Linked DNA regions of Homo sapiens. The protein of the gene in region 1 interacts with the protein of each later gene in a biochemical or structural test. Each region holds a gene or a part of one and is shown in the gene's direction. Other genes may lie near its edges.

The links.
Region 2: the proteins of CCN3 (region 1) and FBLN1 form a complex in vitro, tested with the Homo sapiens proteins (one study listed by BioGRID).
Region 3: the proteins of CCN3 (region 1) and FN1 form a complex in vitro, tested with the Homo sapiens proteins (one study listed by BioGRID).
Region 4: the proteins of CCN3 (region 1) and ITGAV form a complex in vitro, tested with the Homo sapiens proteins (one study listed by BioGRID).

Annotation. Positions count from the first base shown.
Region 1 is NC_000008.11:119,412,029-119,419,445, forward strand, and holds the start of CCN3 (CCN family member 3 precursor), read left to right. Parts: upstream 1-4,417; 5' UTR 4,418-4,504; coding exon 4,505-4,588; intron 4,589-4,715; coding exon 4,716-4,941; intron 4,942-6,029; coding exon 6,030-6,281; intron 6,282-7,102; coding exon 7,103-7,317; intron 7,318-7,417. UniProt on the Homo sapiens protein: Immediate-early protein playing a role in various cellular processes including proliferation, adhesion, migration, differentiation and survival. Acts by binding to integrins or membrane receptors such as NOTCH1.
Region 2 is NC_000022.11:45,498,532-45,505,890, forward strand, and holds the start of FBLN1 (fibulin-1 isoform D precursor), read left to right. Parts: upstream 1-4,351; 5' UTR 4,352-4,454; coding exon 4,455-4,533; intron 4,534-7,359. UniProt on the Homo sapiens protein: Incorporated into fibronectin-containing matrix fibers. May play a role in cell adhesion and migration along protein fibers within the extracellular matrix (ECM).
Region 3 is NC_000002.12:215,426,045-215,433,068, reverse strand, and holds part of FN1 (fibronectin isoform 1 precursor), read left to right. Parts: intron 1-1,104; coding exon 1,105-1,236; intron 1,237-2,216; coding exon 2,217-2,354; intron 2,355-4,730; coding exon 4,731-4,889; intron 4,890-7,024. UniProt on the Homo sapiens protein: Fibronectins bind cell surfaces and various compounds including collagen, fibrin, heparin, DNA, and actin. Fibronectins are involved in cell adhesion, cell motility, opsonization, wound healing, and maintenance of cell shape.
Region 4 is NC_000002.12:186,663,055-186,670,078, forward strand, and holds part of ITGAV (integrin alpha-V isoform 1 preproprotein), read left to right. Parts: intron 1-713; coding exon 714-781; intron 782-1,439; coding exon 1,440-1,587; intron 1,588-2,071; coding exon 2,072-2,164; intron 2,165-3,649; coding exon 3,650-3,729; intron 3,730-4,095; coding exon 4,096-4,176; intron 4,177-4,616; coding exon 4,617-4,722; intron 4,723-5,707; coding exon 5,708-5,866; intron 5,867-6,646; coding exon 6,647-6,760; intron 6,761-7,024.

The DNA of each region.
Region 1 (7,417 bases):
CACTTGCCTGACCCTGAGGTGGATGTTGGGGATGTTACTGTAAATACGACATGCTCTGTGTCCTCAAGGACTCCCAGGCAGGACAGGGAGGCAGTCACCAAAACAGACAAGTACAGTCACATCTTACATAACAATATTTTGGTCACCTACGGACGGCATGTACAATGGTGGTCCCATAAGACTGTAATGGAGCTGAAAAATTCCTATAGCCTAGTGACATAGTAGCTGTCATGACATTGTAGCACACTCATGTGTCTATGGTAATGCTAGTGTAAGCAAACTTACTGCACTTTCAGGCATATAAAAGTATAGCACATATAATTATGTATAGTCCATGTTTGATGATGATAATAAGTGACTATGTCACTGGTTTATGTATTTACTATACTTTTCATCATTATTTTAGAGCATACTTCTACTCATAAAAAAAAGTTAACTATAAAACAGTCTCAGGCAGATCCTTCAGAAAGTATTTCAGAAGAAGACATTGTTATCTGAGGAGATGACAGCTCCATGTGTGTTATTACCCCTGACAACCTTCCAGTGGGACAGGATGTGGAGTGGAAGACAGTGACACTGATGATCCTGACCTTGTGTAGACCTAGGCTAATATGTATGTTTGTGTGTTATTTTTCACAAAAAAAAAAAAAATAAAAATATTAAAACTAGAAAAAAGCTTATAGAGGCCAGGCACAGTGGCTCATGCCTGTAATCCCAGCACTTTGGGAGGCCGAGGCAGGTGGATCACGAGGTGAAGAGATTGAGACCACCCTGGCCAATATGGTGAAACACTGTCTCTACTAAAAATACAAAAAATTAGCTGGGCGTGGTTGTGTGTGCCTATAGTCCCAGCTACTTGGGAGGCTGAGGCAGGAGAATTGCTTGAACCAGGGAGGCAGAGGTTGCAGTGAGCCAAGATTGCACCACTGTACTCCAGCCTGGTGACAGAGAGGGACTCCATCTCAAAAAAAAAAAAAAAAAAAAAAAGCCTGTAGAATAAGGATATAAAGAAAATATTTTTGTACATCTGTACAATGTATCTGTGTTTTAAGGTAGGTGTTATTACAAAAGGGTCGAAAAGTTAAAAAAATTAAAAGTTTATACAGTAAAAAAGTTACAGTAAGCTAAAGTTAATTTATCATTGAAAAAGGAAATTTTTGAATAAATTTAGCTTAGCCTAAGTGTAGTGTTTATAAAGGCTATAGTAGTGTGCAGTTATGTCCAAGGCCTTAACATTCACCCACCACTGACTCACTGACACCCACTGCAAGCTCCATTCACGGTAAGTGCCCTACACAGGTGGACAATTTTTTATCTTTTATACCATATTTTTACTGCACCTTTTCTAAGTTTAGATATGTTTAAATCACAAATACTTACCATTGTATTACAGTTGCCTACAGTATTCAGTGCAGTATATTCTGTACTGTTTGTACGTTTGTAGCCTAGGAGTAATAGACTATATCATACAGCCTAGGTGTGTAGTAGGCTACACCATCCGCATCTGTGTAACTACACTCTATGATGTTCACACAACAATGAAATCACCCAAGGACACATTTCTCCAACAATATCCCCATCATTAAATGGTGTGACTATAATGATTATCCAGTGAGTTATGAGATAAAAGAGATAAGCTCGGCATCCCAGGCCTGCACTGCGGATAACATCTATCCCGGCATGAAGGATTTCAGAGACTATGTCCTGGAGGCAGTGAAGCATGACATGACATGATTATCATCAGATGGTATCACTTTCAATTTACAATTGTTTTAAGATGAAGATCCTCATCCTAGAGCATTTATAGCAGATGATGGAGTGGATGTGTATTGTTTTGCTCACCAAGCTTGCTTTCTTTTTAAGGAACAGTCCTTTCTTCCCAAGAGAACTGCTCTTTCTCTCCATTCCAACCATGAGGTTCTAACTAATCCCCATACTTCACCTTCCTTGTCCCCATTGATTAGTCCAGGGTGAACCCATCCAATTTAATTCCTGGAACTTTTAAAGTTGGGCCTAAGAGACAGGGACATTCCTTCTGTGGTGATAAGGTCATAAAGTAAGAAGATTGGAAGGATCATTTTTCCCTTATGTGGAAGTAATCCTGTTGGCCCTCCTCTCTCTAGATCCCAATTGCCTCTGAGGACTCCCTGTACCATTCCTGTGCTGTCACTATGTGAAACATCACAGCATCCTTCCAGTAAAGTCCTCTTTTCGCAAAAACTAGTTCAAGTTTGGTTTCCATCTCTTGCAATCAAAACTGAATAGCAATTTTACACTTGCAGTGACTTCTTGACATGTTAATCCTTGTCTTAAAGTTACATTTTCCCTGTCACCACTCCCACCCCACTCTTTCCAAGAAGAGCTAGCCCAATCTCCATGTTGCCAATTTCTCCTTGTTCTATCTGAGTCTATTCATGCTTGGAACACTTGGCCGATGCTCTTTGCCTCCCCATTAGCAGTGCTTCTAGTTGCTCCATTTCAAAGTACATTAAAATGCTGTCTACCAAGAGCCACCACCAGAGAATCCTACTGAGTGGGTCAAGAGTGGGGCTCAGGAATCTGTATTTTTAACAAAATACATGCTGGTTGATTCGATCTGCAGCCAGATGGAGGCATCATTAGGCCAAATGGCTTACAAAACCTATCAGTTTTTTTGTTTTTTGTTTTATCTTTTTCTTAAACTTTTATTTCAAGTTCAGGGGTAAATGTGCAGGTTTGTTTACACAGGTAAATGTGTGTCATGGACATTTGTTGTGCAGATTATTTCATCGCCCAGGTATTAAGCCTGGTACCCATTAGTTATTTTTCCCGATCTTCTCCCTGCTCCCACCCTCCACCCTCCAAAGCCTATCAATTTGAAGAGTAGGTAAATGTCCTACTCAAGAGTGCAAATGAACTGTTTCATCTCTAGTTAAGTTTGAGTACTACTCAGTCTCATTTACCTCAAAGAAAGCAGAACTATTAGAGGCTTGGAAGTGTGTCATAGTGGTTTCAGGCTGCCGAGAGAATTATCTAGAAGGGGCTTGAGGTGACCTCATCATCTGCGGGTGTTGCAGAGGCAGACCTGGCCCCTTCCGCAAGCTGCCTTTGATTTCCTTCATGCTGGGGACAGATGAGGTAGAGGCCATTTGTTTCTTTTTAAACTCTAGAATTACATCACAGGCCTGTATAATTTTCCTTAAAAAGTGTTTTTTGTTTTTTTCCAAAGCAACTATCCTCAAAAGAGCTGGGCATAGTTCTCCTAGGGGCAGCACCAGTGTTGAAGTGTGGGGGGAAACTGTTCTAAATCCTTCAAACAATGTCACCTTTGGAGCAGTAAAACTGCTCCCTTTTTCCCATGAGAGATGACAAGCATGCCCCAGCAATCATTTCTTGAAAGCGGATGCCCGGTGAGAGAAGGATTTGATTTGCTGAAGGGTCAGCCAAGTTAAGCCAGTTTCTTCCTCATTTCTTCCCTGGCTGGAGGTTTTGATGGTGGTGATGGTGGTTGAACTGAACCCACTTAGAAAACTGTCAAAGGTTTCTGGACTCTCAGGTGTGCCGTCTCACATTTGGTCTGCTACAGCAGGTGCTTCAAGGCTTTCTTCTGCCAAGATTTCTTTGTTTTATTTTATGATGTTTTCTTTATGTGTGTGTGTGTGTGTGTGTGTGTGTGTGTGTGTGTGTGTTTTACTTTTATTTCTAACAAACCTGTGGACCTTGGGGTTTAAGACTGAGTGAAGCTAGAAGGATTAGAGTCAAAAGAATTTTGCCATTTGGCCAATAGCATTCCCCACCTCCTGACATATCGATTTTTTTTCTAGATTCCCTTCCCCCTGCCACTCCCCTCCCCCCAACACACACACACTTTTCTCTTTCTCCTCTTTCTCTCCTTTCCTCCCTTGCTTCTCTCCCCTCCCTCTCAACACATTCAATGAGTGCCCTAAACGGTGACAAACTTGCATGTGCTTCCCTCATGACTAAACCCCTGGGCCTTCTGCCAATCCCCTGCAGATGGCCCCAAACTGCAGGCATCCCGTAAGGGGACCCCACGCTTGCAGCCCTGGTTGGAACGGTCAGGGTGGAGGAGGATGGTGGGGAGTGGTGGTGTCTTCGTCCTGGGAGAAGGCGAAGCAACTTCCAGGAGGAAACGGGCGTTTCCTTCCCACGCGCTCGAGCGAGCCCTGGGTCCTGGCCTCGGAACTCCACCCAGCCCCTCCCCACCCTCTGGGAAAAGCCAGTCGCCACACACAGGCACACGCAGGCCCCGGCGCCGCGCCCTAAGGAGAGCAGCACCCACAGCCAATTGCCATGGCAACCCCGGGGTTCGTTCCACTTCCCCACCCAGCCGATCTCCCCCCTCCTCCCTGCACTGCAGCCAACCGGCTTGTGCGCGTCCCAGGAGCGCGCTATAAAACCTGTGCTGGGCGTGATCGGCAAGCACCGGACCAGGGGGAAGGCGAGCAGTGCCAATCTACAGCGAAGAAAGTCTCGTTTGGTAAAAGCGAGAGGGGAAAGCCTGAGCATGCAGAGTGTGCAGAGCACGAGCTTTTGTCTCCGAAAGCAGTGCCTTTGCCTGACCTTCCTGCTTCTCCATCTCCTGGGACAGGTAAGTGGCACACCCTTAAGATGCCCCCAAGTTACTTTGCCCGCCTTGGTGGCCCCCATTTGGTCACCGGGCTCACTGCGTCTTCTGTCCCAGCTGAGTGGTTTCTCCTTGTCTCGCCTGCCTTCAGGTCGCTGCGACTCAGCGCTGCCCTCCCCAGTGCCCGGGCCGGTGCCCTGCGACGCCGCCGACCTGCGCCCCCGGGGTGCGCGCGGTGCTGGACGGCTGCTCATGCTGTCTGGTGTGTGCCCGCCAGCGTGGCGAGAGCTGCTCAGATCTGGAGCCATGCGACGAGAGCAGTGGCCTCTACTGTGATCGCAGCGCGGACCCCAGCAACCAGACTGGCATCTGCACGGGTAATCCTGCTCCCTCTGCTGTTTGACCTCTTCTCCTGCAGCTAAGTGAAGCTGCTTCCTCCCTTCTCTTTTGTATTCCCCTTCCCAGAGGGCGATAAGCAAATAATAATAATGCAATAAATGACATGTATAGAGCACTTACTGTGTGTCAGGCATGGTTTGGGGAGCACTTGGGGCTTTGGGGAGCGCCAGAGCCAGAAAGGAAACCTGCCCTGGGGGTGAAAGGCATTCCTCACTTGGCTTCCTAGACAAGAATCTAAGCAAAGGGGGAGCCACGCAGAGTTAAGGGCCAGTGAAGTCATTTCCTTCGGACACTTCTAGGGGGCCACTTGGGGCTGATGGAAGCTCGGGTTTACTCACACGCTCACAGTTTCCCAAACTGCAGTTGGGGAAAACCCAGCAGGTTTGTTTTCACACCTGTAATTGTCCCATTTGAACCAAAGCAGCTGCTAGTCTCCTGGGATAACTATGTAACCCTTTTCTGGCTGCAAGTAAAATAAAATGCAGGCAACTAGCCAATCCAGGCTTCTAAAACGTAATCAGTCGGGGATCAATTTTTCACATGATACAACATTGTAGTTGAAGATTGTCCCTTCCTTTCTGGACAGGAGGGCTTTTACTTTTTTCTCTAAGCTACTGATGATTTTATTATGCTTGAGTGTCAAGGAATCTTAATGCCCTTCCCAATTTGATCAGCTAACCTGTTGGAAAACATAAAGTACACTTTTTCTCTTTTTAAGTCTAAGCTGCTGGAGTAGGAAACTCTAAGGAGGTTCTCGCAAAATGACTGAACATTGGGAAAAATGGCCAGGGGACCTTGGGGACATCACTTCACAGTTGCACACCTCTTTCCTCATCCATAAAATGAGTGGCAAGACTAGATGATCTTGAAGGTTTCTTCTTGCTCTGAGAGGCCTCCATGAGGACATCACTCTACAGTAGATACATGAGAAACCAGATCGCCTGAACTAGAAAAGGACTTGGGTTTTGGAACATGCCCTCCAAATCTTACATAGCTTCTTCACTGTATTGTGTTCTTGTTTTTCCTCTTCCTCTTTGCTTTTCACTTTGCTTCCCCAATATTCTAGCGGTAGAGGGAGATAACTGTGTGTTCGATGGGGTCATCTACCGCAGTGGAGAGAAATTTCAGCCAAGCTGCAAATTCCAGTGCACCTGCAGAGATGGGCAGATTGGCTGTGTGCCCCGCTGTCAGCTGGATGTGCTACTGCCTGAGCCTAACTGCCCAGCTCCAAGAAAAGTTGAGGTGCCTGGAGAGTGCTGTGAAAAGTGGATCTGTGGCCCAGATGAGGAGGATTCACTGGGAGGCCTTACCCTTGCAGGTGAGAAACTCAATATACCTAGGGCTGGTCATAGTAGAGGGTAAATACAAACATGAAGAATTTGCAATCTCTTGGATTTGAAAAGAGAAACTGGCCTCAGTTTCTGGTCATTCAGTTGTGGGTTTCAGGTTGCCCACTGAGATCAAACACATTTGTAGACATTAGATCAAACATATTTATAAACTCAAACTAAGTTATAGAAGGTTGCTGCAATTTCTCCTGAAGAGGACCTCCCAAATTCACTCTTTTGTCTTATTTTTGTCTTATTGGATGACTACTACTTGTATTTTAATCCATCCCACTTGACCCTCATTAGCACTACAAAGACAAAATTTTAAATTCTCTTTCTTTTCTGGATTCTGTACACTACCTAGGCCGTCTCATGATTAACCTCCTTAAAGAAGGCTACTCATCCCTGCACAGGTGTCACTGAAAAGTGTCATCTTTCTAGATGCTGTAGTAAGGCTCAGATGGCACTTCAGGACCTTTTTTTATTCTTATTTTTGTTTTCTCTTATCAATGAAATAGTTTAAATAAAAAATCTCAAGAGACAATAGAGGATTATTTTAGAAGCCATTAATTAGCCAGATTACTTATATTAGCAGTATCCGGAATTGTATACTATTTCTGAGGGCAGACATTATCAGCCATGCCAGAAATAAATAAATAGATAAATAAATTCAGTTCTGTGTCCTGGGAGCATGGGTGTTTAGTAGGTACAGAGTCGAATGAGACCCAGTTTCTAATAATGGCTGAAAAGGACCACTTTCCAATCCTCACATTGTACCTAATATGGCTGTCTTTATTTATACATCCCATAGCTTACAGGCCAGAAGCCACCCTAGGAGTAGAAGTCTCTGACTCAAGTGTCAACTGCATTGAACAGACCACAGAGTGGACAGCATGCTCCAAGAGCTGTGGTATGGGGTTCTCCACCCGGGTCACCAATAGGAACCGTCAATGTGAGATGCTGAAACAGACTCGGCTCTGCATGGTGCGGCCCTGTGAACAAGAGCCAGAGCAGCCAACAGATAAGGTAGGAGCCTGGAGGAAACCTCCCATCCTGAAGGTAATGGCCTTGTGTCCTTGGAGCCTGGGCTTCAGAAAGTCACTGTGTCACTCTGTGACGGAGAGAG
Region 2 (7,359 bases), on another chromosome or scaffold:
ATGGGCTGCATTACACAGGAGAACACTGAGTTTGGGGAATTTACCGATTTTCCGGTAAACTTGTCCAGAGGGAGATGGTACCTCCTCCTTTGAGGTTGCTTTTTGCAAACACGACCCTGAGACACGGGTACAGAGTGACCAGGGCTTTGCATTTGTGGCATACTCAGCAAGAATGTGCAGGAATGCCCGTGCCCATGATGGGTTCTTCTCCCAGCACCTGGGTGTGGCTCACCTGGACTGCAAGAATCTCAGGCCTATGATCTTCCAGTGGGCCTCTGGAAGCTGGATGTGCTGAGAACTAGAGAAGGGGGCCGAGAGTCAGCCTGGGTTTTGGGGTCTGAAGCATGCTTAGAAGCATCCTGGTCCATCTCCTGCATTTTGCAGATAGGGAAACTGAGGCCCAGAAAGGGACTTGCCCAGAGCCAGACAGTGAATGAGGAGGGGGTCAGGACTGGTGCTCCCCTGTGTGGTCCTGAAGGCACATCACTGTCACCACCAGCACAGCAGCTGACAGTGATTACATTACAGAGTTTTCTCTGTGGGGCTTATGTGATGAGAGTCAGCATCTCCTTCAATTCTCACGACCGTGCAAAGTGCAAAGTCCTAATCCTTGCCCCACGTGACAGATGAGGAAACAAGGTACCAAGAAGTCAAATGCTCAATGCCACAGAGCCAGAGAGTAGCGAGCTTGGATTGGAACCCAGGTGGTCTGGCCTCAGACCCTGTCCCAGGCTGTCAGGACCTCTAGCTTGTCCTGGGGGATAGGGGTCCATGGTGGTGCCTACTTCCCTGACACCCAGTGCCTGGCTTTCCAAGTCACCAGCCACAGGGACAAGAGGATGTGGAGAGGCCATGGAGGACAGGCCTGGGATGAGGACTAGAGTGAGTGCCTAAAAAGGGGGCGCCTTGGCTGGGCGCCACGGCTCACGCCTGTAATCCTAGCACTTTGGGAGGCTGAGGCAGGCGGATCACAAGGTCAGGAGTTCGAGACCAGTTTGACCAACACAGTGAAACCCCGTCTCTACTAAAAATACAAAAAATTAGCTGGGTTTGATGGTGTGTGCCTGTAATCCCAGCTACCCCCGAGCCTGAGGCAGGACAATTGCGTGAACCCGGCAGACAGAGGTTGCAGTGAGCCAAGATCGTGGCATTGCACTCCAGCCTGGGTGACAGTGTGAGACTTGCCTCAAAAAAAAAAAAAAAAAAAAAAAATGGTGGGGGCTGTGCCTCAGAACAGGAGTAAGCTCTTGAAGCTTCAGGAAAGGCTGGGAGAGGCCAGGTTTCCATGTCCTCTCTCCTGGCTCTGGCCTCCCTCCCCAGCTGTTGCAGGCTTGGCTCAGCCCTCCTCCTCCCAGCAGTCCCTCTGCCTGCCTAGGGCAGTGTCAGTGCCTAGCTGAATGTAGGAGTCACCTCCTCCTACTGTCCCTGTTTCCTCATCCCCACCCCCTTCTCAGCCACCCACAACACAGCCACTCCCTCCCCATCCCCAGAAAGGGCCCCGGTCACATCGCCAGCGGCCACCTGCTCCATCCCCATTGGGACTTCTCAGTCCTGGCTTCACTGAGCACTGGGCCACACTGGGCAGTCCCAGCCAGAATCACTTTTTTTTTGCTATCACCCAGGCTGGAGTGCAGTGGTACAATCTTGGCTCACTGCAACCTCCGCCTTCAGGGTTCAAGCAACTCTCCTGCCTCAGTCTCCCAAGTAGCTGGGACTACAGGCATGCACCACGATGCCCAGCTAATTTTTGTATTTTTAGTGGAGATGGGGTTTCATCATATTGGCCAGGTTGGTCTCGAACCCCTGACCTCAAGTGATCCACCCACCTCGGCCTCCCATAGTGTTGGGATTACAGGCATGAGCCACCACGCCCTGCCCAGAATCACTTTTTGATTCCTTCTTGGATATTGCCTTCTCCTGGTTTCCTTCTACCCCTCTGCCTGTTTCTACGTCTTCTTTCTGAATCCCCCAGGTCCCCTGGTTCCCCCTTCGCCCTCCACCACCTTCCCTTAGTCATCTAGACTCCTTCCAGGGCACCCCATTCTCCGATGGCTTAAACGAATTAAGTTAATACCAAAGTAGTAATGAGTTCCCAACCTGTTCCAACTCAGAAATGCCTCCCTCGGGCCATCTGCTGATGTGCTGTTTCCGCACCCCACCCCATCCAAAGTCAAAACGGACCAGGATCTCTGGTGCCTCCAAACTTTTGCAGAGACATCAGGAAAGCTGGCACCACCAAGGAAACCCTTCCCACCTCTGCTCACCTTTCACTGGCCAGTCGCATGTCACCTCTTCCTGAGGGGCCTCCTTAACCTCAGAGGCGTGAGCATGCTGGTCCCCTTGGTAAGCTTTCCTGGGCTCTCTGCAAACTTCAAACTTATAAGACACCCTGTGGGGAGATGAGTTCTTGTCCTTTTGTTTTTCATTTTAAAATTTAACATGTGACCGGGCACGGTGACTCACGCCTGTAATCTCAGCACTTTGGGAGGACAAGGCGGGTGGATCACCTGATGTCGGGAGTTCAAGACCAGCCTGACCAACACGGAGAAACCCCGTCTCTACTAAAAATACAAAATTTGCCAGGCGTGGTGGTGCATGCCTGTAGTCCCAGCTACTCAGGAGGCTGAGGCAGGAGAATCGCTTGAACCCGGGAGGTGGAGGTTGCAGTGGGCTGAGATTGCGCCACTGCACTCCAGCCTGGGCAACAAAAGCAAAACACCATCTCAAAAAAACAGAAAGAAACAACATGTATTCAGAAAAGGGCACGTACCATAAATGAACAGCTCAATAAATTCTCACAAACTGAGCCCAACCTTGTAACCAATACCCAGAGTAAGAAAGCTGAACCTAACCAGCCCCCGAAAGCCCAGCACGCTCCCACTCCAGGATCACCACTCTCCTGACCTCTGAACTGTTCTTGCCTTTTTTTTTTTTTTTTTTTTTTTTTGAGACGGAGTCTCACTCCGCCGCCCAGGCTGGAGTGCAGTGGTGAGATCTCGGCTCACTGCAACCTCCGTCTCCCGGGTTCAGGCGATTCTCCTGCCTCAGCCTCCCGAGTAGCTGGGACTACAGGTGTGCACCACCATGCCTGGCTAATTTATTTTTATTTTTATTTTTAGTAGAGACAGGGTTTCACCATGTTGGCCAGGCTGGTTTCGAACTCCTGACCTCAGGCAATCCGCCCACTTCATCCTCCCAAAGTGCTGGGATTACAGGTGTGAGCCACCGCCACCGGCCTGTTCTTGCCTTTTATGTAAATGGAATCATGCAGCGAGTGTTCCTTTGTGGCTGACTCTATTACTCTGACTTACGTCTGTGAGATTTACCCGTTATGTGAGTTGCGGATCATTCACTCCTGTTCCGTTTGTCGTGCTCCTAAGCCCGAATACTCCACGATATTCATCTGCCTTGATGACGCTAGGCTTCCCAATTGGAGGAATTATGAATGTGCGGCTACATGTCTTTCTGTCTTTTGGAGCACATGTTGTATGCGTTTCTGCTGAGTGTAAGGCTGGGCGGGGCGTCGGTGGCTCAAGGGGTCCATGGTGAACTCACAGGAACACCGCTTTGAGCTGCCCAGTGGCGTTCCTATGCGTCTCATCCAGTTCCTCCGCATCTTCACCTGCACCATTTTATTCTTCTTCTTTGGAAAATAAATCTACTTGTGGTTCCAAAGCCTAACTCATCCTCAGTAACCCCGGTAGCTATGAATTCCTATACAAGAGGCTCCCGCAGGCCCAGCGCCAAAGCTGCCTCCCCTGCAGCCTCGGTGACTTCCCGGGTCTCTCCCTCCGGCCCTGGTGTCCCGGGTGAGCCCAGCACACGTTGGGATTTTGGTTGTTTGTTGGCCTGGCCCGACTGTCCCTGTCTCTGAGGGCAGAGTCGGGTCCCATCCCGGGACACGCCTGGGGTTAGCCACCGACCTGCAGCCTCCCGGCCGAGGGTGCGGGGTTGGCGGTAAGGCCTGCCCCAGTGCCCCCCAGCAGCCGGGCCTCCGACTGCAGGCCCGGGTCCCCGCTCCTCCGCGCGGAGTCGGGCGGGGATAACCTTTGATCCCGAGCCCTCCCCTCGAGAGGGGGTGGGGGGAGGAGGGGATCGGGTTTCACGGAGTGTTGGGGGATAGGACTGGGGGCATCCGGCCCGAAGGCGCCCCCTCTGTGCCCCCTCCGGGGAAGTCTGGGATCCAGGCCCTCGCCCCCAGCCGTGGGCGCGCGCCCCTCGCAGCCGGGGTCCGGGGAGGGAGGGTCCCGGCAGGGGGCGCCGGGGAGGGAGGACCAGGAGACCCGCGGCCCCGCCTCCGCCGCGCCCTCCTCCCGGGCGGGATAATTGAACGGCGCGGCCCTGGCCCAGCGTTGGCTGCCGAGGCTCGGCCGGAGCGTGGAGCCCGCGCCGCTGCCCCAGGACCGCGCCCGCGCCTTTGTCCGCCGCCGCCCACCGCCCGTCGCCCGCCGCCCATGGAGCGCGCCGCGCCGTCGCGCCGGGTCCCGCTTCCGCTGCTGCTGCTCGGCGGCCTTGCGCTGCTGGCGGCCGGAGGTAGGGGCGTCCCGGGTCCGCCGCCCCAGCTTAGGGTCCCGACCCCCTCGGCCTCGCGCTCCCTGCGAGTTTCGGAACCACGGGGACTCGGAGTCCGTGCGTTGCCCTGCGCGGCGCCCCCGGACTGTCAGCGCCGAGGCCTCGGCGACGCCCCCCTCCCCCACGGCCAGCTCCGGTCCTCATCTCCTCCCCGGCCTGGGGACTTGTTTCAAAACCGGATTCCCCCACCCCTCAAACACACCGTCCTACCCCAGTCCTAGCAAATCCAGCCGGCTCCGGGGGCCGCATCCCGGGCCCTGGGGGTTCAGGGGCGCTAGCTGGGCTGGGGGACGCTGGCTGGGGGTTACCGAGCCCAGGGCGCCTTGCACTTGACGCTGGAAGCGCCCTCGGCTATCTTTCCTCACCGCTTCCCGCCTCCACCCCCAGGTAGGAGCTGTTGTACCCAGCTTGCGGATGTGAAACTTGAGCCTGGAGGGTGGGAAGCAGTCTTTTCCCCAGGAGACACTAGCGGTCCTGGGATAGGGGCTGGAGAGGAAGAAATGAGAAAGCCAGGGAGCAGCCTGGAGGTTTTTGGGGCGTAGCTGGGAGGATGGAGGGGATGCGGACCTGGCCACCTCCTCCCTGCCTCCCTCCCGGGACAGAGGGCCCAAGGCAGTGGTTCTGCCGGGCTCGGTGCTCAGCGGGGACTGGGGACTGGTCACTTCCACCAACGGCAAGGGGGATGGAGTTTTCCAAGAGCAGATCTGATCGATGGCCCAGACCTTAGGCCCCAACTCTGGGACTGACAGCTCCGGGACAGTGCCCACCCAGCCCGCGCTTTTCTCCCCTCTAACCCTCAAGGCCTGGTCCCTGGGGGGACTGCCACGAGGTCCTCTGATCAGAGCAGCTGCTGGGCGGCAGAGCTATGACCTGTGACCTCTCTGCTGACCCGTGGCTTCTCAGAGCCACTAGCCAGGCCCGGCACTCCTGGCGTCTTTGTTTCTCCAGTGGCCCAGGTCCAGGGGAGTGCCCTAGACCACCCTCAGAATCCGAGTCTTAATCCCTGGTTTAGTTGAGTTCCTTTTAACCTCTGGTGACCGCCTTTGTTAGTCAAAAGGTCGCTTGTCCCAACTAATGCTCACTGGGGGATTCCAGGAAGGGGGCTGAAGGGGGCTGGAGGGGGAGGGGAGGCTGGGAGCTGAGCTCTACAGAGCTTTCTTGACTGGCTGGCTGCAGCAGAGCCCTGTGGAGCTCTGATTGTTCAGGCGGTGCTGGGCACGGCCTGGGCACCTCGTGGGGTTGGAGATGGTGTGGGGAGGCGCAGAGCTCAGTGTTGGCACCAGGAGCCTTCGCAGCCCCTGGGGGCTCCCTGGAGGCTCTTTAGAAGAGATGGAGCTTGATGTAAGGGGAGCGCGGGAAGAGGGCATTCCAGCAAGCAGCAGGCCGGGTGGCTGCCAGCTGGAGGGAAAACCCCGAGGGGCCCTGGGTGATGGGTGGGTGGGACATCCGAGACTCCTGTTAGAAAAGGAAGGAGCCTCAGAGGCCCCGATTGTGTCGATGAGGAAGCTGAGGGCCTGAGAGAAGGCGTGGTAAAACTCTCCCTGGCCCCGGAGTCTCTGCGTTCCCTCTCACTGTTCTTTTCTGTCTGCGGTTTGCGAACAATTTCTCCCTATGTGTGTGTGACTGAATGAACACCCCAGGACTTGCGGGCCCAGTGTGGCTCACTGCTGAGCCACAGAGAAGTTTGTAATTGGAAGGGTTTAAAAAAGCCTCCTAATTGCACACTTCGATAAAAGCAGCTGGATGTCCTGTGGGCCTTTTGTTTCTTTTGGGGAGAAGTCTCTTTGAGTTTCAACAGGTTTAATTTGGTACAGTTTGGGAAGGGGCTTTTGAAGACTGCCTGGCCCCTATCTGCAGCTGTGAGGCCCCCGAAGCCCTGTATGTAAGGCCACAAGTGGCACCGCCCCTGCTCTCAGAGAGCTGTGGGGCCGCAGATGGTGAGCCTGTTAGCTGATCTGCAGAAACTCCTTTGGCGACGGCCGCTTAAATGGAGAAGGGCGCTGATCTTTCTTGCCAAACGGCCGAGAGGAGCCGCCTGTCTGTCCTGTGTCTGTCCGTCCCGTTGGGCTTTACTGAGAGCTGGGTGGGAGGGAGTGGAGAGGAGGAGGTGTTAGGAAAAGACGATTGTGTTTTCTCCAAGGCTTTCTTGGCCTCTGGCTGCAGCCGGGCAGCGTTTCCGACTGATTAAAAGAAAGTTGGGAGGGAGAACAAAGGCCAGGGAGGACTTGGCTTGAAAACGTGTGGTCTGTGCCGCCACTCCTGGAAGTTTCCCAGTCAGGAGGTGGGGGCCAGGGCACTGAATGCATGAAGATGAGACTCTGTGCCATGGGGGTCAGGGCTGGGGCCTCTCCTGCAGCACCCACAGCTCTGGCTCACGCCCCGCTCCTGGCCCTGCTGAGTGCCCCCCAACTCAGGGCTGCATTTGCCACCCCTGTTAGGTGTGTAGGGCAGGAGTAGGGGCACGCGGCTGACTCATCTTCAGGTCCTGGAGGGCTCCACGGGCCTTGTGAGACTAGAAATCAGTTTGCATCAGAAAAAGCCATGAGATGGTTTGGTGGTTTTCTCATTTATAAAATGAAGGGAACAAAAACCTACTTAGGTTGTCTTGAGGATTAAGAGAGAGAACATAGGATAGTGTCTACCATGGCAGCTATATTATTATTATTATTATTTTATTTTATTTTTGAGACGGAGTTTCGCTCTTGTCGCCCAGGCTGGAGTGCAATGGCATGATCTCGACTCACTGCAACCTCCGCCTCCCGAGTTGAAGCGATTCTCCTGCTTCAG
Region 3 (7,024 bases), on another chromosome or scaffold:
CATAGTAGAACCAAGAGACCTCTTGGGTTCCATTTCAGTAAGACATGCTTAGGGGAGTTGCCCATTTTAAATCACCTGGATATCTTCAAGCTAGACAAATCATGAGACTTTTCTGCAGTGACTGGGAAGGTGTTCATGAAGAGTGAACCAGCCATGTGTTGTCTGGTCTTCATGTTTGCAATGCAGAGACCTCTTGCACCTCACAGAAACAGTCTGGTTTCTTGGTGACCAGTAGGTTATACCCAGGAAGCAGATGTCACTATTCCTAGGGATAATACAAAATTATTAACCCAATAGAGTTTGCTAAGGAACTTTGGGAACCGGGCTGATTCTCAACTCTAGTTTAGCTAAGGCACTCTTTCCAGTATGATTCACTGGGTTACCAATAGATTCTATTAAGATAGTATTTAAGTTTTTTAATCCATTCTTTAAATATAAGTCGTCTTAAAGACTTCTATTCAAAAGAACAAGTCCCGTGTGAATAGGCCCAATCAACTTTCCCCATATTTCATGTTAGGGTTTATCCAAGTTCACAGGCAAATCGCAAGAGGCAAGGGTCCATAGTGTTTACAATCTAGTTCAGCATTTGAATGTGCCATTGGGCTTAACAACTTAGAAAACTACCAGGATTTCCACACTTTATATGCATATGTCTGTTTGCTTTCCACCAAAATGACATTTCTATCCTAGGGTAAAATACAGGCTCTCCATGCTCCCAAAAGCTGGAGTGCTGTGCCTGATGTGGCCTTTTCACTGAATTAGTCTCAGTCTTAGCCTGCTGTGTATGAGTGAAGACCAAGCCTCCCAGCCTTTCTTTTCTGCTTAGGACCCAATTTCCTGTGATCTCTCTGGGAAAGCAGGATTCATGACCTCTTCCTTGCCATCCAGATTTCTCTGTGGTTTTCCATTGTGTTCTAAGCAAGACACTTAACTGAATTGACTCCAAGTGACCAGACCTGTTAACGTTTCCCCTGTCTCTGATGGGAAAGCTGTTGTCTGTGTCTCTACTTTAGCCAACCTAAGTACCTACCATGGGTGGAATATGAGACCAAAAAAAAAAATCTGTTCTGCCCTCTCCTAACATTTTCGTTGTATCTTCAACAGACCGCTGCCATGAAGGGGGTCAGTCCTACAAGATTGGTGACACCTGGAGGAGACCACATGAGACTGGTGGTTACATGTTAGAGTGTGTGTGTCTTGGTAATGGAAAAGGAGAATGGACCTGCAAGCCCATAGGTGTGTGAGTCTTAGGGCTGAGCAAGAGCTGGGATGCTTAGTTCTAATGTGGGGTTGGACCAGAATCACATCTACATAGGTCATAGACCTGAATTCCAGTGAAAACCAATAAAGAAATGGGAATTTTGTTTGAAATAATGAATTATTATATAATCCATAGTCTTCTTACAGGAGTTAGATCAAAAAGTACTGACTACACATAGAAGTCTTAACTTTGCTTCAAAAGCATAAGGTAGAATTGAAAGATTTAGAATGGAGTCATTTCTTTTACCTAATAGCTGATCTCAGATTCCTCCTTCGTCAAGATATAATTTATTTAAAAGAAAAAAAAATGACACTTTGGACACATTTCTATATGGAATGTCCTGGACCGAAACATGAAATAGTGTGTGCTTGTCACACTCTGCTCATTTCTTTTCAAATTAAAAGTTGTTGAGCTTCTTTGGATCTCAATCCTCAGTTGAATTTTGTAAGTACAAGCCTGAAAGTTTCTGGCTATAAATTTTACTCTGTTTACTTGTCTTCTAATTTAGAGGTTTTTGTCTTGTTTTGTATTGTTTTGCTTTCCAATATTTAAAAATAGCTTTCTTTGTCATTGTATTTAGGCCACTCAAAATTCATAATTGGTCATTTATAATTAAGATTGGAATTTTGCATATGTAGTCTCCCACAGACTAGATACATACATAGATCCTTGCTACTGGAAATGCTGCTGGGAAGTTTGGGGCTCGCTGAAAATATGTAGTCCATGTACTTATTAGGAGAATGGAATTTCTGCCTGCCAACTCAGCTTGAGCTTTCTTTTGCCTTGGCTACTTACTGTGTGCTTAGATGCTGGGTGTGTCATTCTTTCTGAACAGAGTGCCACTTAAAAAAAATGTGGCTGAATTTTTGCTTACACACTACACTTTAAATTACAGGGAGCTTGCACAATTCAAAATAACCTTTTTTTCCTGTTTTTCTTCCAAATTTCCCTACAGCTGAGAAGTGTTTTGATCATGCTGCTGGGACTTCCTATGTGGTCGGAGAAACGTGGGAGAAGCCCTACCAAGGCTGGATGATGGTAGATTGTACTTGCCTGGGAGAAGGCAGCGGACGCATCACTTGCACTTCTAGAAGTATGTTTTACATCTTTATGTTAAAGATTAAGCCAGGTATTGTTTTCTGGATTCCTAGAGAGAAGGGTAATACTATGTTACTCAGAACACATCCAGTATATCAGCATGCTTTGGTAACTTCTGGAAGTCAAGAAAACTTTCATAACCAACTTATTCCGCATCTTCAGAGAAGACTACATAAATAGAAAAACATATCACTTTGATAAGGTTCAATCTCAGCTCACTGCCACTGACATAGAGTTGAACAAAAGGTTTAGGTTTCCTTCTATGTTTGAAATTTAAATAGGGCACATTCACAGGCTAAATTGATAAAATTAAAAAGAATTTATCCCATAAATTAAAATGATTTATCTACTCTGGAGTTAGGGATAGTGTCTCTGACCTAACGCATTTGATTAGTGCTGTAAAGAAGCTGGCCTCTGGTGTCTTTACTGCTCCTTCTAAGATTGTCTTGGGGTCTTAATTGTTGCCTTTGGGTTTGAAGGCTCCTTTTTTGATATTGTAAACTAATAACAGCTAGAGAGTTTGTTGAAGTAAAACAGCCATTAACTACTGGTGTTGTAAATAAGTTTAAAATCAAATCCAAATAATTTGAACCTGTTTTATTTATCTAGCTGAACCCATTTAACTACCTTTAACATAGCCATCATCCAAATTCAAATTCTTTGCTAACAAAAATAGGTCTCTCATGAAAAGTGGTAACCATTTTGACCAAAGCTTTCCCAGAAACTTGCTGGTTTATTAGATATTTTGCATTTAAAATGTTACTGTGATCATCAGACTTCCAAGATCTTTGTGGCAATATTTTAGCTTAAGACAAATTAGATGTCTGATTCAAACCTTATCTGTTATTTAGAACTCTTTAAATAGCAAGTTGGGAAAAGTTTCTCAAAGAGAAGTCATTTATTCCAGAAAATTTTATAAGGACTTACTTTGTTCAAGGTATTATAGGGGTGCAGATATGAAATGAACATTAGCCCAGCCTTCAAAGAGTACTTAGGGGGTCAGGGAGATGAGAAAGTCTTATACATATTTATCATCTGCAAAACACAGTATTAAAGATTTCAACAGAAATACTGAAAGTAGTGCTATGGAGGTTCAGGGGATGATAATACTTTTCGCTGGGGATTTGGGAAAAAGCTCTAATCAGTAATTATACCTTCATGCAAACTTCTATTCTTGTGGTAGATGGATGTGGGTGTGTATTTGTTTGAACCTACATCAACTATTAATTTTTTTTCTCTAACCCAGGAGTTGCAACAATATCCAATTCACAAAGACATCAGATCCTCTATACTCACATCGTGGCACAGAGCAAATTTGGATTATAATTTAAATAATCTATTTACCAGATAAATGCACGCATAGACTAATGGTCATTTAGTTACAAATTATCATTTTATGTTGATCCCACTCTTCCAGTGGAGGGCTAACACTGAATAATTTGGGGCTATTTTGCTAGTGATTTTTAAATACTGTAGATGTTTGGGTATAGGGGAAGGGAAAATAATATTTTAGTCAAAGAAATTGTGCATCCTCTACATTTTTTACATAACAAATGAAGAAAGAGATACTACCACCTTCTTATAGCTTCTTTGTAGCCATTGGTGAAGACCCTTTGATACCTGCTTGCCTCCCCATTGTTATAAGCTTTTTTTTGTTTGCTTGTTTTTTTTGTTTTGTTTTGTTTTGTTTTGTTTTTGAGACAGTCTCACCCTGTCGCCCAGGCTGGAGTGCAATGGTGTGATCTCAGCTCATTGCAACCTCCACCTCCCGGGTTCAAGCGATTCTCTTGCCTCAGCTTCCCGAGTAGCTTGGATTACAGGCGCCCGCCACCACAGCCGGCTAATTTTTTTTGGTATTTTTAGTAGAGACGGGGGTTTCACCATGTTGCCCAGGCTGGTCTTGAACTCCTGACTGCAGGTGATCCACCCTCCTAAAGTACTAGGATTACAGGCGTGAGCCACCGCGCTTAGCCTGTTTTTAGTTTTCTAAAGCAAGGTCCCTATTGAAAGGCAGGCCATAAACAGTGATGACTAAGAAAAATCCTGGAAGAGCCTGAGAAGGAAAAAGATGAAATATAATGCCAGAGAATGAAGTTAGTCAAAGGAACAGTGTGAAAACAATAAATAAATAGATAAATGAAAATGTTATTTGACAGAGAGATGAAACTAGACTAAACCATTCAGCTGCCTTTCCACTGTAACAAATGTAATTTCATCTTTCAGAAGTGTAATACCTTGCAGCACCAGAGCTGAATATGAACATATTACCAAAAATAGATTACCAGGCATAGATAGCATTCCTTTTTTAAGTTTGAATTGACCACTTGCGACTCTCGACCTGATGTATGTATGTGCTTCCTTTGTGACACAGATAGATGCAACGATCAGGACACAAGGACATCCTATAGAATTGGAGACACCTGGAGCAAGAAGGATAATCGAGGAAACCTGCTCCAGTGCATCTGCACAGGCAACGGCCGAGGAGAGTGGAAGTGTGAGAGGCACACCTCTGTGCAGACCACATCGAGCGGTGAGGCACAGGACGAGCAGGGGCGGGAAATGGGGAAGCAGGTCAAGAAATATTTCCGCAAATCCATCTTTCCTTTGACATGCCATTTGAGGATAATTTGCAGTGTTTCAGCTAATAACCTAAGATAATTTACACATTATTGGTTGTTAAAACTTTTTTTAATGTCAAGTTTTAAATTTTTCAGAAAAAAAGAAAAATGACATACAAATAAACCTTAGGGGGAAAAAAGCCAGATTTATCTCCAAAAGATAAAACTGAGTTTTAAAGAATGCTAGCATCATAAAACTTACCATGGATAGATCACGCACACACGCACACACACACGTATTTTGAATATCCAAAGTTCATTTGAAAGGAAATGAGAGTTATAATTAATTATATGACTACCTGGTTCTTCTGCTAGGAAAGGACAAAAAAAGTGCATTTGGATTTTTTGTTTGTTTGTTTTTGAATGAAATATACTTCCCTGTCCCGACATTGAACTCTTTTTGTAGTGGAAACCATCCTTTATATGTGGTTTCTATGCTCTGGCAAACTTTGTTACATTCTATAAAGTAACACACAATTATTTCCTTCATGTATTGGCATTCGAAATTTTAGAAATTCAGAGAGGACTTAGAGATGGCCATGAAAGACATGATATCTAAGCATTCTTTTTAAAAAACAAGTTTTAATCATTTTTGGCATGAGAAAAAGATTTTTACGTCATAAATGTTTCATAAAAATCTGAAGAGAGAAATATGGCCAACAAGGACGTGCACTCCTCTCATTATTTTTAATATGTTTTGATTAACTTTTTACTATATGATGTGCCAACATCATTACGTAGTGTCTCAGCCATCCTTCAATTAAAAATATTAATTGTTCTAATTTTTCTTCTTTTGATGAGTTTTTGTCTTGCTTTGAGCACTTATGAAGGTGAACAAGATTAGATTTGATAATATCTTTGAGTTATTTTATTATCATTAATAAAATTGCTACTGGCCAAAAAAAATTATAAACATCGGCCACGCGCGGTGGCTCACGCCTGTAATCCCAGCACTTTGGGAGGCCGAGGCAGGCGGATCACGAGGTCAGGAGATCAAGACCATCCTGGCTAACACGGTGAAACCCCATCTCTACTAAAAATACAAAAAATTAACCAGGCGTTGTGGCGGGCGCCTGTAGTCCCAGCTACTCGGGAGGCTGAGGCAGGAGAATGGCATGAACCCGGGAGGTGGAGTTTGCAGTGACCCGAGATCGCACCACTGCACTCCAGCCTGGGTGATACAGCGAGACCCCATCTCAAAAAAATAAAATAAAATAAAAAATAAAAAAAATTATAAATGTCAGTCTACCAAAATAGATTAAAAGTGTAGGTGGGAATTAAATGGGGATAAACACTCAATAAATGTTAGCTATATATGAATATTGCCAATACTGAAAAGATTCCATTGTTCAAAAAAGTTTGAGAAGCAATGGGTTAAACAAAATGGAACCTGCTCTGCAGAATCTGTGTGTTCCTTTACATCATACTCTCCATGGTAGAGTGTAGGGGATGGGCGCCATGTCTCCCTAGTACGTTTGACCTTGGGATTCTTTGTCTGTGAACATCTTTGGGTTCTAGTGTTCAGCAGCACTTAGGGAGGCACTGAATTCAGTGTACCTTTGGTCTAGCCTCAGCCCTGATTCTGTTCTGCGGTGGGCCCTGGCCTTCAAGAGAACAGATATCTAAAAGTTGAAAGAAAAGATCGGCCGGGCGCGGTGGCTCACGCCTGTAATCCCAGCACTTTGGGAGGCCAAGGCGGGTGGATCACAAGGTCAGGAGATCGAGACCATCCTGGCTAACACGGTGAAACCCCGTCTCTACTAAAAATACAAAAAATTAGCCGGGCGTGGTGGCGGGTGCCTGTAGTCCCAGCTACTCGGGAGGCTGAGGCAGGAGAATGGCGTGAACCCGGGAGGCAGAGCTTGCAGTGAGCCGAGATTGCGCCACTGCACTCCAGCCTGGGTGACAGAGTGAGACTCCGTCTCAAAAAAAAAAAAAAAAAAAAAAAGAAAAAAGAAAAGATCAACACATCCTGTTGTGTTATTCTGAAAGGAAAGCTGTCTTAAGAGGATCAATTGGTTTTAGAAAAAACACAATAGAATCACAA
Region 4 (7,024 bases), on another chromosome or scaffold:
CCACTGTTTCTCTCTTTTGGGTGTTTCCATTTTGCTCTAGCTGGAACATTCTCCTGGCCAGATCTAGTGGGGAAAAAGTTCAGGTCTTTGTTTTTTTCACCTACCCTGATTGGTTAACTATAATGCTTCAAGTTCCTTTTCCTTCATCTTTTTCCAAATGACCATGCAATGCTGGACTCATTTTATCCAGTTTCTTTTGCCCCTTGGTCTCTCTGCCTGTCTGAATTGCTGCTGAATATCTACAGCTCCTTATTCTTTTATCCTCTGCAGCCCTATTTCCTGATATTGGTAGAGGCACAGTCCATAATGAGAAACTCTAGAAGGGAGTCTATTTTGCCCAACATCTCACAACTTAACTAGCAGCAGGGTAAAAATGAAGCCTCATTTCTTGGCTATTACTTTCTTTTCTACACCAGTCTTCATTCAAATATGATAACAGCTTAATCTGAGATAAAACTGAAAGGTTCCAAGGAACTGTATCATATCCTATGAATCTTTTTCTTCTTTCTCTTTCTTGACTGGCTACACTGACCTGCTTAAAAATAAGTGGCCATGGTCTCTTTTGCATTCAGGTATACAACAAACAAGCTGATGAGTATCTGAAAATATATACATGTGTACATATAGGCTTAACCACATAGATATTGATAAACACTGCTTATGCCACCTGCATTGGTATTTTTCATGTAGAAAAATAAAATGTTTTTTTCTAGGCTCACATTCTACTTGACTGTGGTGAAGACAATGTCTGTAAACCCAAGCTGGAAGTTTCTGTAGATAGGTAAGTTTTGCTTGAAATAATAATGTAGTAAGAAATTTAAATGGAAGGGCACATTTTTCTATTCAAAGGACTAACATATTTTAACGAGAATTAGTTATCCTGGAGGGTAATGCCTGATTTTCTATAACACTAAAACTATCAATATTGAGCTTCTAAAGAAAATATCCACTGTGTTTTCACTAGTTGCCTAGGTTGAAAGAGTTATTACCATTCAACTTTGGGTAATATCACAAAATAATATTGTATCATTTTAAAGATACACTTCATCATAAACATTCTTTGAACTCAAGGAATATCCTTACCATTTTGTAAGGCATATGAATTATAAAGAATATTGTGAGAATTATGACACGTGATTAATTTAGCTTTTAGAAAAATATTGGGGAATTACAAAGTACATGTAATTCACTTCAGTAATAGATATGAATGATAGTGATATATTAGTGGCATCAATGTTTATTTTTATTGAGAGAAGCATTCGATTTGCACCCAGTGTGCTATTTTCTGTTTTCTATCAAGCTGTGAAGTAGTCTTAAAATACCTTGAGACACTGTTGAACATGTCAGTGCTGTGTATTTATCTCTTCTTTCTTTGAACAGTCATACTTTCCCCATGTAGTCTTTTTTTCTCAGTCTGGATTTGTATTGTTAACTTGTAGTGATCAAAAGAAGATCTATATTGGGGATGACAACCCTCTGACATTGATTGTTAAGGCTCAGAATCAAGGAGAAGGTGCCTACGAAGCTGAGCTCATCGTTTCCATTCCACTGCAGGCTGATTTCATCGGGGTTGTCCGAAACAATGAAGTAAGCAGGCTGCCTCTTTAAAAATTGAAATGCACTCACGGATCTTATTAACATTAATGAGCTGTTCCCCTATTTAGTGAAGCACAAGCTTAGCTATTCTACCTAAGGCTAAATTGATAGACAATGGAGTGCCTATCTTACATAATTCCTTTTAAGCCTAATACTTTGCATAATGCATTGATATGACATTTTTAGAATTGCAAGCTAAGTGCCTGGAAACAAGGTTAGATAGATAAAGTGTCTAAGCCTGTCCATCAAATTATTTGTCAGAGGCTGTATGGTTTTGTATGGTAGTCCTCTAGGGATCTTTCAGAAACACTTCTGCATTTCCATGTGGCAATTGTACCCAATTCTGGCTTTTTCCTTACCTCCTGGTTTGCTCAACTAGATTTATTTGCTTAGGACAAGAAACTGAAATATCCAACTGCGTGATACTTTATTTCCTTTCATATCCATTTTTTTTTTTTTTTTTGGTCTATCAAAGGCCTTAGCAAGACTTTCCTGTGCATTTAAGACAGAAAACCAAACTCGCCAGGTGGTATGTGACCTTGGAAACCCAATGAAGGCTGGAACTCAAGTAAGACAATTTAATTAAACGGATTTTTCTCCCTGGCAAATAGAAAAGCATATTGTTGTCTGGGCTCATAGTAATTTTTAAAAATAAACACTTCAAAACAATGTCCTTAAATTGGTTTCGATATAATAGTTAAATGATTAGCAGAGTTTTGCTTAGTTTTAACTAAGATACGAAAACAATTGGTTGTGCTCCTACACGGTTTGCAATCAGCTGCTCTTTATGCCTCCTTCACTTTAGTGAATGGATGAGAACGTGGTTTAAACTAAGGACTGAAATAATAATTTTTGCTATTTTACACTGATGCCTTAATGGATCCTGAAAAGCTACTCTGGCAACTACCAAGACTGTCAATCCTAGGTGAGCTAGATTCCATCACAGGCCCCACACAGAGGATCAAAGTGAAGGTCAGTTAAATCAGGCTCCCCTTCAGATGGTGGAGCAGGGTGCCCAGGAGCTTGAAAAGAAGCAGCCAATGGCTTGCTTTCCGAATCCTCTAAAAAGTAAACAAAATATACCTTGTAGAATTTCTAGTAGCAAGGACAAAATGGCAGCATATGCTGTGTGACTTTTTCAATAGAATTTATTTAATGACTTATTGATACTGGTACTTTGAAGATCTGTGGTAATACAGGTCTAAATATTCCATATTTCTTTAGTATGTTTTCTATTACAAGTCATTAGTATTTCTAGATGTATGGTATCTTAGGGATGAGAACTTGAACAAATTACCCTAAGTTCAGTTTTTCACGTGTATTCAATGTTTTATTAACAATGAGCATGCCTTTTATTTTCTCATATTCTCATTCTCTCTAACTTTCTGGTTATTATATAGTTTCTGCTTATTACAAGTAGCCAGCTCCAGGTTTTGTGGAGTGGGAGGCAGAACCCAGGAAGTACTGTTTTTATATGTCATTTGTGTGATCCCCAAGAAGCCTTCTTTTTTGTACCTGGTGGTTCAATTGTTTTATTTAAAATCTACCAATTTTCTGCCTGCAGGAATTAGGATATTTGGTGTTGGGAGTGTTATGAGAGGTGTGTGGAGAAATTCTGGTTGTGGCCCTACTCATGCCTTCTTTAGCCATGTTCCCTTACTCTAGTAAACCATCCATTTCTTCTTTCCTGGCCTATGAACACAGCACATACTTTGGTGGTTAGCTTCGTGTTATCAAATTATTGTACCCAGTTGCTAGACTTTCACTGGATCAACAAACATTTACTTTTGCACTTTTTAGAAAGATGGTTAGTATTATAAGGAGGTATAATTATGATTAATAATTGTTGTTAAATAGGCTCTCTTATGGATTGGTCCAGGTATATTAAGTAAAATAGGTTTGATAGAAAATAAGATTTAGTTATCTTTGTTCAGTTTTATTGTAAGCTCAGAAAAACCCCATTTTAGAACATTATTTTTTATTTAGACATTGGATTTGAAATTTTGCTAATTAGACATTGACTAGCATTACTATCTTTTCCTCTCTCCTTTAGCTCTTAGCTGGTCTTCGTTTCAGTGTGCACCAGCAGTCAGAGATGGATACTTCTGTGAAATTTGACTTACAAATCCAAAGGTATGAAAACAACTTATATTCACTTATAACTATCAAATAAATATTATTTGTTGTAAATATACTATGTAATATACTTTAAATATAAAGTAGCAGATTAAATTTTATTGCTTGACTATAGCATTTTAAAATCAATATTTACATTATAAGAATAATTTTATTGTCAGATTTGAGTTTGTAAAACAAAATTTAAAATCCAGAAAGAAAATGTTCATCTTCTTGGAATTAAGTGTTAATGAAAATAACTATTTTGAGGTATAAGCTTTACACTTGTTTCGTTTGTTAATTTTTAGTTTCACTGGGTTTGCCTCTGTATGTTCTTGGTTGTTATGCATAATTCATTTTTAAGTTTTTTTTTTTCTTTTTCAGCTCAAATCTATTTGACAAAGTAAGCCCAGTTGTATCTCACAAAGTTGATCTTGCTGTTTTAGCTGCAGTTGAGATAAGAGGGTCAGTATGAATACTTAGTTGAGTATCTCATTCTCATGATTGCTTTTTAAAGGTAACTGTCAGGCCTTAGCCTTTTCTGGACAATAGACCCTGCATGTTTAGTGGTGGTTTTACTAGGGCATTAGCTTCTGTAGAAATAAAATCCTAGGTATGTTCCAAACCCCCAATACTGGGTGATCCTCAAAAGGAACAAGACATGGCAACAACATGCACAAAATAATTTTGTTGAACTTTTACACAAATTGTCAATTCACCTGTTACGTGTACATTTCATAAGAGCAGTTTTTGTGCATGTGTGTGTTCATTAGTTTTCTTTTAAAGTATTTTTTAAAATTAAATCTAATTTTATTTATTTGAGTAATGAATATGGGGTACTTTTGAAAATGAACTGACTATATCATTTTGATATTCATGGTAGGTTTTCTTTGGTCATTGTTTAGAGTCTCGAGTCCTGATCATGTCTTTCTTCCGATTCCAAACTGGGAGCACAAGGAGAACCCTGAGACTGAAGAAGATGTTGGGCCAGTTGTTCAGCACATCTATGAGGTTTGCAGTTGTTAGATTTTACTCAAACCTCGTGAGCAAGCCAACGAAGAGAGGAACAACTAAGCTACTTTAAAAAAAAAATTCTATGTAATTTTTATGTAAACTCTACATTGGTTAAGTATGTGTCAGAGATTTCTTTGAATATTTTCCCTATACATAAATTCATTTTTATTTGACAAATAGACTTGTTTAAATAAAGCAGTTTATATAATTTGTTGTTTAAAATAAATTAGTTCTACTTGAATAAAGAAATGTCATTGGTACTTTCTCATGGGCATTTTGTAGTTCTGGCTAAAAATTGAAAATACCTATGGCAAATAATCAAAACTATTTCTATAGGAAGAAATTTTCTTTGTCATCCTTCATTAATAACTTTTAAATATTTTGCCTTTTGTTTATACATACATACATATATATATATATATATATATATATATATATTTTTTTTTTTTTTTTTTTTTTTTTTTGAGGTGAAGTCTTGCTCTGTCGCCCAGGCTGGAGTGCAGTGGCGCGATCTCAGCTCACTGCAAACTCCACCTCCCGGGTTCAAGCGATTCTCCTGCCTCAGCTTGCTGAGTAGCTGGGATTACACGTGTGCACCACCATGCCCGGCTAATTTTTGTATTTTTAGTAGGGACAGGGTTTCACCGACAGGTTTCACCACGTTGGCCAGGCTGGACATGAACTCCTGACCTCAAGAGATCCGCCCGCCTCGGCCTCCCAAAGTGCTGGGATTACAGGCATGAGCCACTGTGCCCAACCTTGTTTATATTTTTATCCTGACACATATTACTCTGTGTTAGAGACAAATGTTGAGTTTGATCATTTTTGCATAAAAATGGTCACATTGTAATTAGAGGTTAACTGTGGAAATTGCTGTTATTTAAAACCTATTGCTAACATGATTTCTAAAGTTGATGTAGGGGAAGGATTATGGAACAGATTTTTGCCCAAGGTGTAGATACATTTTCTTTTTTCTCCTTAGCTGAGAAACAATGGTCCAAGTTCATTCAGCAAGGCAATGCTCCATCTTCAGTGGCCTTACAAATATAATAATAACACTCTGTTGTATATCCTTCATTATGATATTGATGGACCAATGAACTGCACTTCAGATATGGAGATCAACCCTTTGAGAATTAAGGTAATATGCTTAATAGCAGCTCTTCATTACAATGATATTTCATTGCCTTCTTTCTAAACCTGTAAAAGAAATTCATAAAATAAAACAACTATTTTAATATAAAACCCACTCTGCAAAAAATGGTTTAGTTCATAAGCAGTACACTTAGGATAAGTTCATTTGTATAATGGGTAAGAATTGATTCTGTGATGTCTAGTGAACCACATCTTCATAGAGTGCTTACTGAGCCTCATGAGATGTGTCCTTCAGTGACTCAGTTTGACCTTGGCTCCATCACGTTGTTGTTTCTTCAGGGCATAATATCACATCAAGGGTGTTTTGTTGTTAAAATTTCTACCTTTGGGATAAGCTATACCATTTTACTCATGATTATCTTGACTTTTGGATATAGTCATCTCCATCATAGATTTGCACTAGAAACTATTACACAATATGATCTAAGGAAAGGTGAAGAAACAAAATAAAAGATATACCCATGATTGACATCACAAATGTACTGTGGAATTTCAGGCCATTTCTGTATGTTTCATCAGTTTCCACTCTAGCTAAGCAAGGGCTGAAAATAATGGTTAGGGAGAGCTAACTTTTTTGGTACATATTAAAGACTCTAATCTTTATTTTCTGTCCTTACTGCTCACTATATACTGAGTGGTAAATATTCTGTCATACTAAATTTTCATTCACTATTTTTTAATCATATCTAAGAGTTTATATCAAAATGCTGATGTAAAATGTTTTTCATTATCATTTACCACCATTTTATTAATGTGATTGCATTAGATCTCATCTTTGCAAACAACTGAAAAGAATGACACGGTTGCCGGGCAAGGTGAGCGGGACCATCTCATCACTAAGCGGGATCTTGCCCTCAGTGAAGGAGATATTCACACTTTGGTAAGTGCCATTTCAAATATGTGCACCATAGACATTTAAAAATATGTGACTATAGAACTGACGCCAAAGAACATTTCAAAAATAACAACAGCTGTGCTTGAACAACTACATTTATTTTTATACCATGCATTCCTCTCACTTTCCTTTTTCCTAGTCAGATTAATGCCATATTTTCTTCAAATGAGCTATTTTTGTAGATGGCTAATAAAACTAGTTTATGTCCCAACTTTGATTCTCCTACTCTAGTTCTTTAACTGTCCTCTT